2 linked regions of the Homo sapiens genome follow. The protein of the gene in region 1 interacts with the protein of each later gene in a pairwise test. Each region holds a gene or a part of one and is shown on either strand. Other genes may lie near its edges.

Region 1 (5,149 bases):
TGAGGCTGACAGAGGTGTTGCCTGTGGCCAGAGTTTGTGCAGCTCTGTGGTGCTGGAGGTGTCAGGAAGGATCGTCCTGGAGGGTGGGGGTGCGCCTGAGTGGGGGCATCCTTGTGCCGTGGGGAAGGGTGGGGGAGTGGCTGCCCACGGCCTGGCATGCATCCCCACTGTGCAGGGGGCAAATGCTGTGGCCTCTGGGAGGGCACAGGTGAGCTCGGGTGGATGCAGGTGAGGGTAGGCAAACTCGGGTGAGCACCAGGGAGAGATCTTAACAGCACCCCAGGGCCACAGGCTCCCAGAGCAGGGCGGCAGGATCTGGGAAGGGACTGTCCTCTCGCGGGGTCCTGGCCCTACCCCCGCAGCCTGCTGGCCCTTCGCTGAGCCTCTACTCTGGAAGGGAAGGGACGGGGCCCCTTGGTCAGCCACCAAAGGCCTATGTCTGTGCCCTTTGACTGCAGCATGGCCACATTGCTCGTGGGGACATGGTCTTGGCTGCCTCCTCCATGTCGCTGCAGACGCCGCACGGCCCCCAAAGCCAAACACATTTACTGTCTGGCCCTTCATAGAAAGTGATTGGGGTCCTTGGCCCAGAGGCCAAGTGAAGCCTCTGAGGGCTGCAAGGCACAGCAGGGCGAGGGCCAGGGCCAGGAGTGCCGGGTGTGAATGTGGGTGAGTGTGTGTGTGTGTGAGCGCATGTGTGTGTGGTGTGTGTGTATGCATGGTGTGTGTGGTATGTATGTGTTTAGCATTGTGTGGGGTGTGTGTATATGTGTGGCACGTGTGTGTATGGGTGTGAATGCATGTGTGTGGCATGTGTATATGTGTGTGGCATGCATGTGTATGTGAGTGCATGTGTGTGGTGTATGTGCGTGAGTGCATGTGTGTGTGTTTGGTGTGTGTATGTGTGTGCGAGTGTGTGTGCGTGCATGTGGTGTGTTTGTGTATATGAACAAGTACATATAGTATGTGTGCTTTGTGTCTGGTGTTGTGTATGAGTGTGAGGTGTGTGTGTATGCGTGCATGTGTGGTGGTTGGTGTTTGTGGTGTGTGTGCATATTTGTGGTGTGTTTGCTGTGTGTGGGTGCCATGTGCGTGTATATGTGGGTGCGTGTGTGCTACGTGTGACTGTGTGTGCATGAGTTATATTTGTGTGTGAGTATTGTGTGTGTGCATATATGTGGGTGTGTATGCCATGTGTGACTGTGTGTGCATGTGGTGTATTTATGTGTAGGAGTGCGTGTGTGTGTGTCTGTGAGGAGGGGCACATACCCTTTCTCCCAGGGTGTGGCAGCAGGCAGGTTGGGGGTGGAGTGGGCTCTGCACTTGTCCTGCCGCCCAGGGGGGCTGAAGGCTGGAGGGTGGGGCAGAGGGGACAGGCTTCGTCACCCTCCCTCCCTGCTCATTCATTAACATGATGTGTGTTTATGGAGAGCTGACTTGTACCAGGCACGGTTCTGGGAGCCAGGGACACAGGCTGGTTGCGGTGACAGGTAAACAGACAGCTACACAACCGCACGTGTGACTGAGACGCGGGCGAGCGGAAGTCCAGGGCTGGGATGGAGAAAGGGGCCTCCTGGGGACGGCCCGCGTGGGCCTTGCTGGGAAGTGCCAGGTTCGTGTGATGCCTGTCTATGTGGCTGCTGATGAGGGCGCCCGTGGGACTGCAGGCATGGGGCCGGGTTAGGTGTGAGCCCAGGTGAGCCGCTGCCACTCTCAATGAAAGGCGTCCCCAATGTCGCTGGCGTCAACTCTAAGCACCCCAGGCGGGTTTCAGTGTCACTGCGAGGCACATGCCTGCGTCCGGGAGTCATGTCCTTCCTCTGAAACTCCAGCCTGCCTGGATGTCCTGTGTCTGGTCCTCAGCTCTCCTGCCAGGCGGGGAGAGGGGAGGTCAGGAGGATTTGGGGGCTGGAGGAGAGGGTGCCAGTGCACAGCCCGCTCGGGGCCACACGCCCCCAGACACCCTGTGTGAGATGTGAGGTGTGGCTCCTTTTGTTCTGTCCCCACCGGCAGGCCAGGCAGCAGCGTTCAACGTGACCTTCCGGCGGGCCAAGGGCTACCCCATCGACCTGTACTATCTGATGGACCTCTCCTACTCCATGCTTGATGACCTCAGGAATGTCAAGAAGCTAGGTGGCGACCTGCTCCGGGCCCTCAACGAGATCACCGAGTCCGGCCGCATTGGTGAGGCCCAGGCACTGCAGGACAAAACCCAGTCCTTTCCCAGACCCTGGCCACTCCTGCCTGTGGCCCACACAACTCCTCGCACTCAGGTCCCCAGGGTAGATCTGGGGGCCCCAGATGCAGGTCCCCCCAGGGCATCCACAGGGCTGCAGTCGGCCTGCCTCCCTGCCAGGGGCCACACCCAGTCCCTGGCTCCCCAACACTTGTAGACATTGTCCAGCCCTCCACTTCCCCTTCCATCTTCTACTTCCTTTATTTATTTCTTGGTATGTTTAAAAGACAAAATTCTGACAGTGCCAATTATTAAACATTAAAGACCACAACACATATAGACGGCACAGCGACGGCAGCACTGAAGAAACCACACAGCAAGCTCTGCTGGGCCAAGGGCTCCGCTCTACACCAGCACTGCCTTGCCACAGAGCAGGTCTCCAGCACACGTGTGTGTCAGTCACAGCGCATGTCTTCCCCGCCGGCCGTGGCTTCTCACATCGGCACTCTGCCACCTTCCCTACATGCGGGGATGCACACATGCACGATAACACACACACACACAAGCAAATGCATGCTCACACAAATGCACGCTCACACACAAATGCACGCTCATGCACGTGAATGCACGCTCACACACAAATGCATGTTCACACATGCAATGCACACTCACACACAAATGCATGCTCAAACGCAAATGCACGCTCACACATGCGAATGCACACTCACACATGAATGTATCCTCACATGCACAAATGGATGCTCACACACGCGAATGCATGCTCACACACAAAAGCACACCCAAACTCAAATGCACACACACGTGAATGCATGCTCACACACGTGAATGTATGCTCACACACATGCTCAAACACACAAATGCATGCTCTCACATGTGAATGTATGCTCACACATGAATGTATGCTCACACGCAAATGCATGCTCACACACGCGAATGTATGCTCACATGCACAAATGCACGCTCACACACGTGAATGCACGCTCACACACAAATGCATGCTCACACACATGAATGCATGCTCACACTTGCATGTGCACACACATGCACACACAGTCATACACACGTGCAAGACCACATGTGCACACAGACATGCTCACATGCACACTCATGATCACCCATGTATGTCTTCACTCACATGTATAAATCGTACATAAACACACATGCCCACATATGTACCTGGTCACCTACGTGAACTAGGTGTGTCCATACCTGAACATGCTCACATGCATACAGGAATACGTGCACACACAGTTGTGCTACGCATGTACACACTCATGTTTACACATGCAGATGGCTGCACACACAGATACACATACGCACCTGTTCACATGCCCACATGTATACCTGGTCACACACATACATGCAGGAACACACATGCATACACTTATGCTCATCCATGTACATTGCACACTCCCAGGTTCACACACACGCCCACATACGTTCACATGTGTGCTTGCACAACGCACATGCTCACACACACACTCCACATGTGCCATCTTGCTTTCTCCACCTCCCTGCTAGGAGAGAGGAAACAGGCTTGCCCTCGTGCCCCTTTGAAGCTGGCCCTCCCACCTGGGCCCAGCCTGCCACCTCCCCAGCCCCTCCATGTGCCCTGCAGGCTTCGGGTCCTTCGTGGACAAGACCGTGCTGCCGTTCGTGAACACGCACCCTGATAAGCTGCGAAACCCATGCCCCAACAAGGAGAAAGAGTGCCAGCCCCCGTTTGCCTTCAGGCACGTGCTGAAGCTGACCAACAACTCCAACCAGTTTCAGACCGAGGTCGGGAAGCAGCTGATTTCCGGAAACCTGGATGCACCCGAGGGTGGGCTGGACGCCATGATGCAGGTCGCCGCCTGCCCGGTGAGGCCGCTGCCCCTGCTTGGGTCCCCACGTTCCCCCAGTGTGGGGGGCTCTGTCAGGCGCTGTGTGGGGGCAGGGGGGTACCCTGGCCGGCAGGTCGTCTGAGGGACTCCAGCCTGGGCCTGGGGAGAGCAGCTCCTCACCCTGCTGCTGCCCATGCAGGAAAGGGCAGGAGGAAGGGAGGGTGACCACGAGGGCTCGAAAATCATGCGCTGATTTCATTGTTTGCTGTGAGTTAAATTTGTGACCCTGGGCAAACCTTATGAAGCCTAAACATTTTGCGAGCGGCCAAGGGTGGAACAGGGCCGCTAGGCAGCAGGTCCCGTGGTTCCTGGGGTGGAACCACCCTCCTCCCTCCAGGCCGGGTGGGCGCTGGCTGCCCAGTGTGTGTCGCTCTCCACGTCCCGCCCACCCAGTTTGTGACTGTCAGCCTAACAGAGCAGCCACAGTCCCTGGGCCATGTTGAGGCCACATGCACTGTCCTCCCCTCACAACCCACCTTAGCTCTCCTGCTTCCCTGCAGTCCCAGCGCAGACACACTGCTCACGAGTGTGAGGTCACAGCCTAGGACACGCACGGCCCCCACATGCGCCTGCCAGGGGCTGTCAATGGTGGACTCAAGGCCTGCTGGGCCCCTCAGGCTCGTTTTCCTCCATGTTGCACTCGTTCTGCGTGTGGCCCACACGTCTGCGAGGGTTTTTCCCCTTGGGGATGGTTTCCTGAGGGTTTGTTCCCAGCTCTGAAGTGCAGGGACCGCAGCCGTGTCTCTCTCCTTGCCTTTCCACACGTGCCTCCACTCCCTGCGCCTCACATGTGCACGGGGTGTTTGAGGGCCGTTGTCTCCTCCTGGGCGTGGCGTCTGGGGGAACACAGCTGGGTCCCTGAGACCCAGGGGAAAGGGGGACCCACACCAGCCTCCGGGCCACCCCACCAGCTCTGCATCGTCTCCTCTGCTCCAGAGGGCCGGGTCTGGGAAACTGAGGCAGGTAACCCTGCCCCCCACGCCTTCTTCTCAGGAGGAAATCGGCTGGCGCAACGTCACGCGGCTGCTGGTGTTTGCCACTGATGACGGCTTCCATTTCGCGGGCGACG
Region 2 (4,324 bases), on another chromosome or scaffold:
AATATTTTCAGTGACTTACATCATCAATACCATCATCATCATGATGGAGATCATGGATCATCCTAACTACCCTCTACCCCACCAACACCTTTTGATGAATGATATGGTTTGGTAGTGTCCCCACCCAAATCTCAACTTGAATTGTATCTCCCAGAATTCCCATGTGTTGTGGGAGGGACCCAGTGGGGTAACTGTATCATGGGGGCCAGTCTTTCCTGTGCTATTCTCATGATAGTGAATAAGTCTCATGAGATCTGATGGGTTTCTCAGGGGTTCTGCTTTTGCTTCTTCCTAATTTTCTCTTGCCACCACCATGAAAGAAGTGCCTTTTGCCTCCCACCATAATTCTGAGGCCTCCCCAGCCATATGGAACTGTAAGTCCAATTAAACCTCTTTTCTTCCCGGTCTCGGGGATATCTTTATCAGCAGCGTGAAAATGGACTAATACAGTAAATTGGTACCAAGAGTGGGGTTTTTGCGAGAGTGCCAGCTATCCCGAGGGAAACTTTGGAGGGAACCAGCTACTAGATGGTTCAATTAGTCTTTCGCCCCTACACCCAGGTTGGATGACCGATTTGCACATCAGGACTGCTACGGACCTCCACCAGAGTTTCCTCTGGCTTTGCCCTGCCCAGGCAGAGTTCACCACCTTTCAGGTCCTAACATTTGTGCTCATGCCCCACCTTCCCAGTGCAGAAAACAAGATGGGCCGGTGGAAAGCTGACCTGGCTACTGCCACCGCAGAGTGCCCAATTTGCCAGCAGCAGAAACCAACACTGCGCCTTTGATATGGCACTATTCCTCAGGGTGATCAGCCAGCTACTTGGTGGCAGGTTGATTATGTTGGACTTCTTCCATTGTGAAAAGGGCAGATGTTTGTCTTTACTGGAATAAACACTTACTCTGGATATGGGTTTGCCTATCCTGCATGCAATGGTTCTGCCAAGACTACCATCCGCGGACTCATGGAATGCCTTATCCACTGTCATGGTATTCCACACAGCATTGCCTCTGACCAAGGCATTCACTTTATGGCTAAAGAAGTGCAGCAGTGGGCTCATGCTCATGGAATTCACTGGTCTTACCATGTTCCCCAACATCCTGAAGCAGAACGGTGGAATGGCCTTTTGCAGTCACAATTACAATGCCAACTAGGTGAGAATACTTTGCAGGGTTGGGGCAAAGTTCTCAAGAAGGCTGTGTATGCTCTGAATCAGCGTCCAATATGTGGTACTGTTTCTCCCATAGCCAGGATTCACAGGTCCAGGAATCAAGGGGTGGAAATGGAAGTGGTACCACTCACCATCACCCCTAGTGATCCACTAGCAAAATGTTTGCTTCCTGTTCCCGCAACATTAAGTTCTGCTGGCCTAGAGGTCTTAGTTCCAGAGGGAGGAACGCTGCCACCAGAAGACACAACAACAATTCCATTAAACTGGTAGTTAAGATTGCCACCAGGACACTTTGGGTTCCTACCTTTAAGTAAACAGGCTAAGAAAGGCGTTACAGTGTTGGCTGGGACATCAAGGCTATCAAGACCCAGGCTATCAAGATGAAATCAGTCTACTACTCCAGAACGGAGGTAAGAAAGAGTATTCATGGAATACAGGAGATCCATTAGGGCGTCTCTTAGTATTACCATGCCCTGTGATTAAGGTCAATGGGCAACTACAACAGCCCAATCCAGGCGGGACTACAAATGGTCCCGCCTGGATGAATGAAGGTTTGGGCCTCTCCATCAGGAAAAAAAAAAACACAACCTGCTGAGGTGTTTGCTGAAGGCAAAAGGAATACAAAATGGGTAGAAGAAGGTAGTCATCAATACCAGCTACTACCATGTGACCAGCTGCAGAAATGAGGACTGTAATTGTCCTCAGTATTTCCTCCTTCTTTTATTAAAAACATGTCTGTGCTTGCACACACTTGTACTAAGAAAATATCTTCATTTTATTTCCTTTCTCCTTTATCATGTGACATAAGATTTATTGACTTCACATCAGCATTTAAGTATCGTTAACTTTATGTAAGAGTGTTTCAGTTGGGGACTGGTGTGTTTCCGGATGTACGAAGAATAGTTGTACTACATCAGGTGTAATTATGACCTAATTATTGTCTTTATTTGAAGATTATGTGTGATCTCAGGAGATGTGTATGGGTTCAAGTTGACAAGGGGTAGATTTGTGGTGGTTAAAACTGAGTGTGTCAACTTGATTGAATTGAAGGATACAAAGTATTGATCTTGGGTGTGTCTGTGAAGGTGTTGCCAAAGGAGATTAACATTTGAGTCAGTGGGCTGGGGAAGGCAGACCCACCCTTAATCTGGATGGACACCATTTGATCATCTGTCAGCAAATATAAAGCAGGCAGAAAAACATGAAAAAGCGAGACTGGCCTAGCCTCCCAGCCTACATCTTTTTCCCGTGCTGGATGTTTCCTGCCCTCAAATATCGAACCCCAAGTTCTTCGGTTTTGGAACTCAAGACTGGCTCTCCTTGCTCCTCAGCCTGCAGACAGCCTATTGTGGGACCTCGTGATCATGTGAATTAATACTTAACAAACTCTCCTTTATATATATATAAAGATTGCCAATATATATATATTAAGATTGCCACCAAGACACTTTGGGTTGGAATATATATACATACATATATATTCCATTAGTTCCATCCCTCTAGAGAACCCTAATACAATGAAAAATTAATATAACAGTATTCTACACTAACTGATCCAGTATAGTCTTCTGAGTACATTTTTCACTTTTTTGCTTATTGCATTTATAGAACTCTTGGTTTAGTGCTTAAAGCAGGAGAAAAAATGAAGAATGTTCCTCCTTTTCTCATCTAATTTAATAAACACTTTTGAATAAAGCTCAGACCCACCTAGAAAAACCCACAATCTATTCAGGTGAGATATGTGTAAAAAAAATTACAATAAAATGTGATACATAAAACTAATAAAACTTAGAGACCATTTGCCTAAAGGAATCATGAAAGGGTCACTAAGACACAGTTTTAAATAACATTGGACAATCACCAGTTGTAGAAAAGGGCATTCCAGGCAAAAGGGTGTGTAACTGTATGGAAGCAATAATAAGTACAACATTTTCAGGAAATAAGGAGAATTTGGTGTGACTAGGCCTAGATGCTTGTGGGGAGGCCAGGCTATAAAAAGATGTAAAGTCTAGGCTGTAGAGAGCTATGGAAGTCATGTAAAAGAGTTTGCAGTTTATTCTGCGGATGATGAAAAAATATTAGACATTGTAAGCAGGTGAGATTGTTAGAATATTTGCATTTATAATCAAAGATGTAGTAATATCATGGGTGAATGAGATGGGGAGAGAATAAAGGCAAGAAAACGTATTCAGAAACTACTTCAGAAGCCCAGGTGAGAGATAACATGGCCTTCAGCTACAGGGTAGCAGAGGAAATGGGAGGAATAGACAGGTGAAAGGCAACTCAGAGGTTGGCTTGGGTGACTGAGTTGAAATGAGGTCAGAACAAGGGACAGGGAGTTTCTAGCGTGGGTATTTGGGATGTACATGGTTGCTACGTATTTCTGTCAACAAGGTGAGCTGAAAGTACCTGTAGAATATCTCCAAGGAGAACATACAAAGGATAGCTAGAAACATGAGCCTGAATGTCAGGGTTGGGTGGAGCTAAGGGAATGATGGTGAGATTCATCAGCAAGCTAATGAAGACAGTGGCAGTGGAGGCGAATACAGACAGTGAAATTCCCTAGGGAGAGCTGTGATGTGGCTCAAAAGAGGGCGAAAAACAGTGCTCCAGGGAGCACAAACATTTAATGGATAAGAACAAGGTAATGAAGAAGCAAAAGGAACAGGGTTCAGAAAACCAGAAAAGCCAGTGCCCTGAATGTCTAGGGAGGGAGATTTCTAAAAGCAAATAGTCAATAACATCAGCAACTTTTCCTCTGGTGACAGTGTACTTATTTCTTTTAGTGAAGTAAACTCTGATTCCCCATCCTGGTGTACATATTTTTTTTTTTGAGACAGGGTCTCACTCTGTCACCCAGGCTAGAGTGCAGTGGTGCGATCATAGCTCACTGCAGCCTCAAACTCCTGGGCTCAAGCAATTCTTCCACTTCAGCCTCCCAAGTAGTTAGGACTACAGGTGCACACCACCACACATGACTAATTTTGTTTTATTTTTATTCTTGTTTTTTTGTAGAGATGGGGTCTTGCTATGTTTCCCAGGCTGGTCTCAAACCTCTAGCCTCAAGTGATCCTCCTGCCTTGGCCTGCCAAAATGCTGGGATTGCAAGCGTACGCCACCGCACCTGGCCCTGACATATATACTTTAAGCAG

The links. Proteins that work in one complex are often made in the same cells at the same time.
Region 2: the proteins of ITGB2 (region 1) and NOTCH2NLC interact in binary tests that used the Homo sapiens proteins (3 or more experiments, as listed by UniProt).

What each region holds. Positions count from the first base shown.
Region 1 is NC_000021.9:44,900,400-44,905,548, reverse strand, and holds part of ITGB2 (integrin beta-2 isoform 1 precursor), read left to right. Parts: intron 1-2,013; coding exon 2,014-2,184; intron 2,185-3,815; coding exon 3,816-4,057; intron 4,058-5,073; coding exon 5,074-5,149.
Region 2 is NC_000001.11:149,455,797-149,460,120, reverse strand, and holds part of NOTCH2NLC (notch homolog 2 N-terminal-like protein C), read right to left. Parts: intron 1-4,324. UniProt on the Homo sapiens protein: Human-specific protein that promotes neural progenitor proliferation and evolutionary expansion of the brain neocortex by regulating the Notch signaling pathway.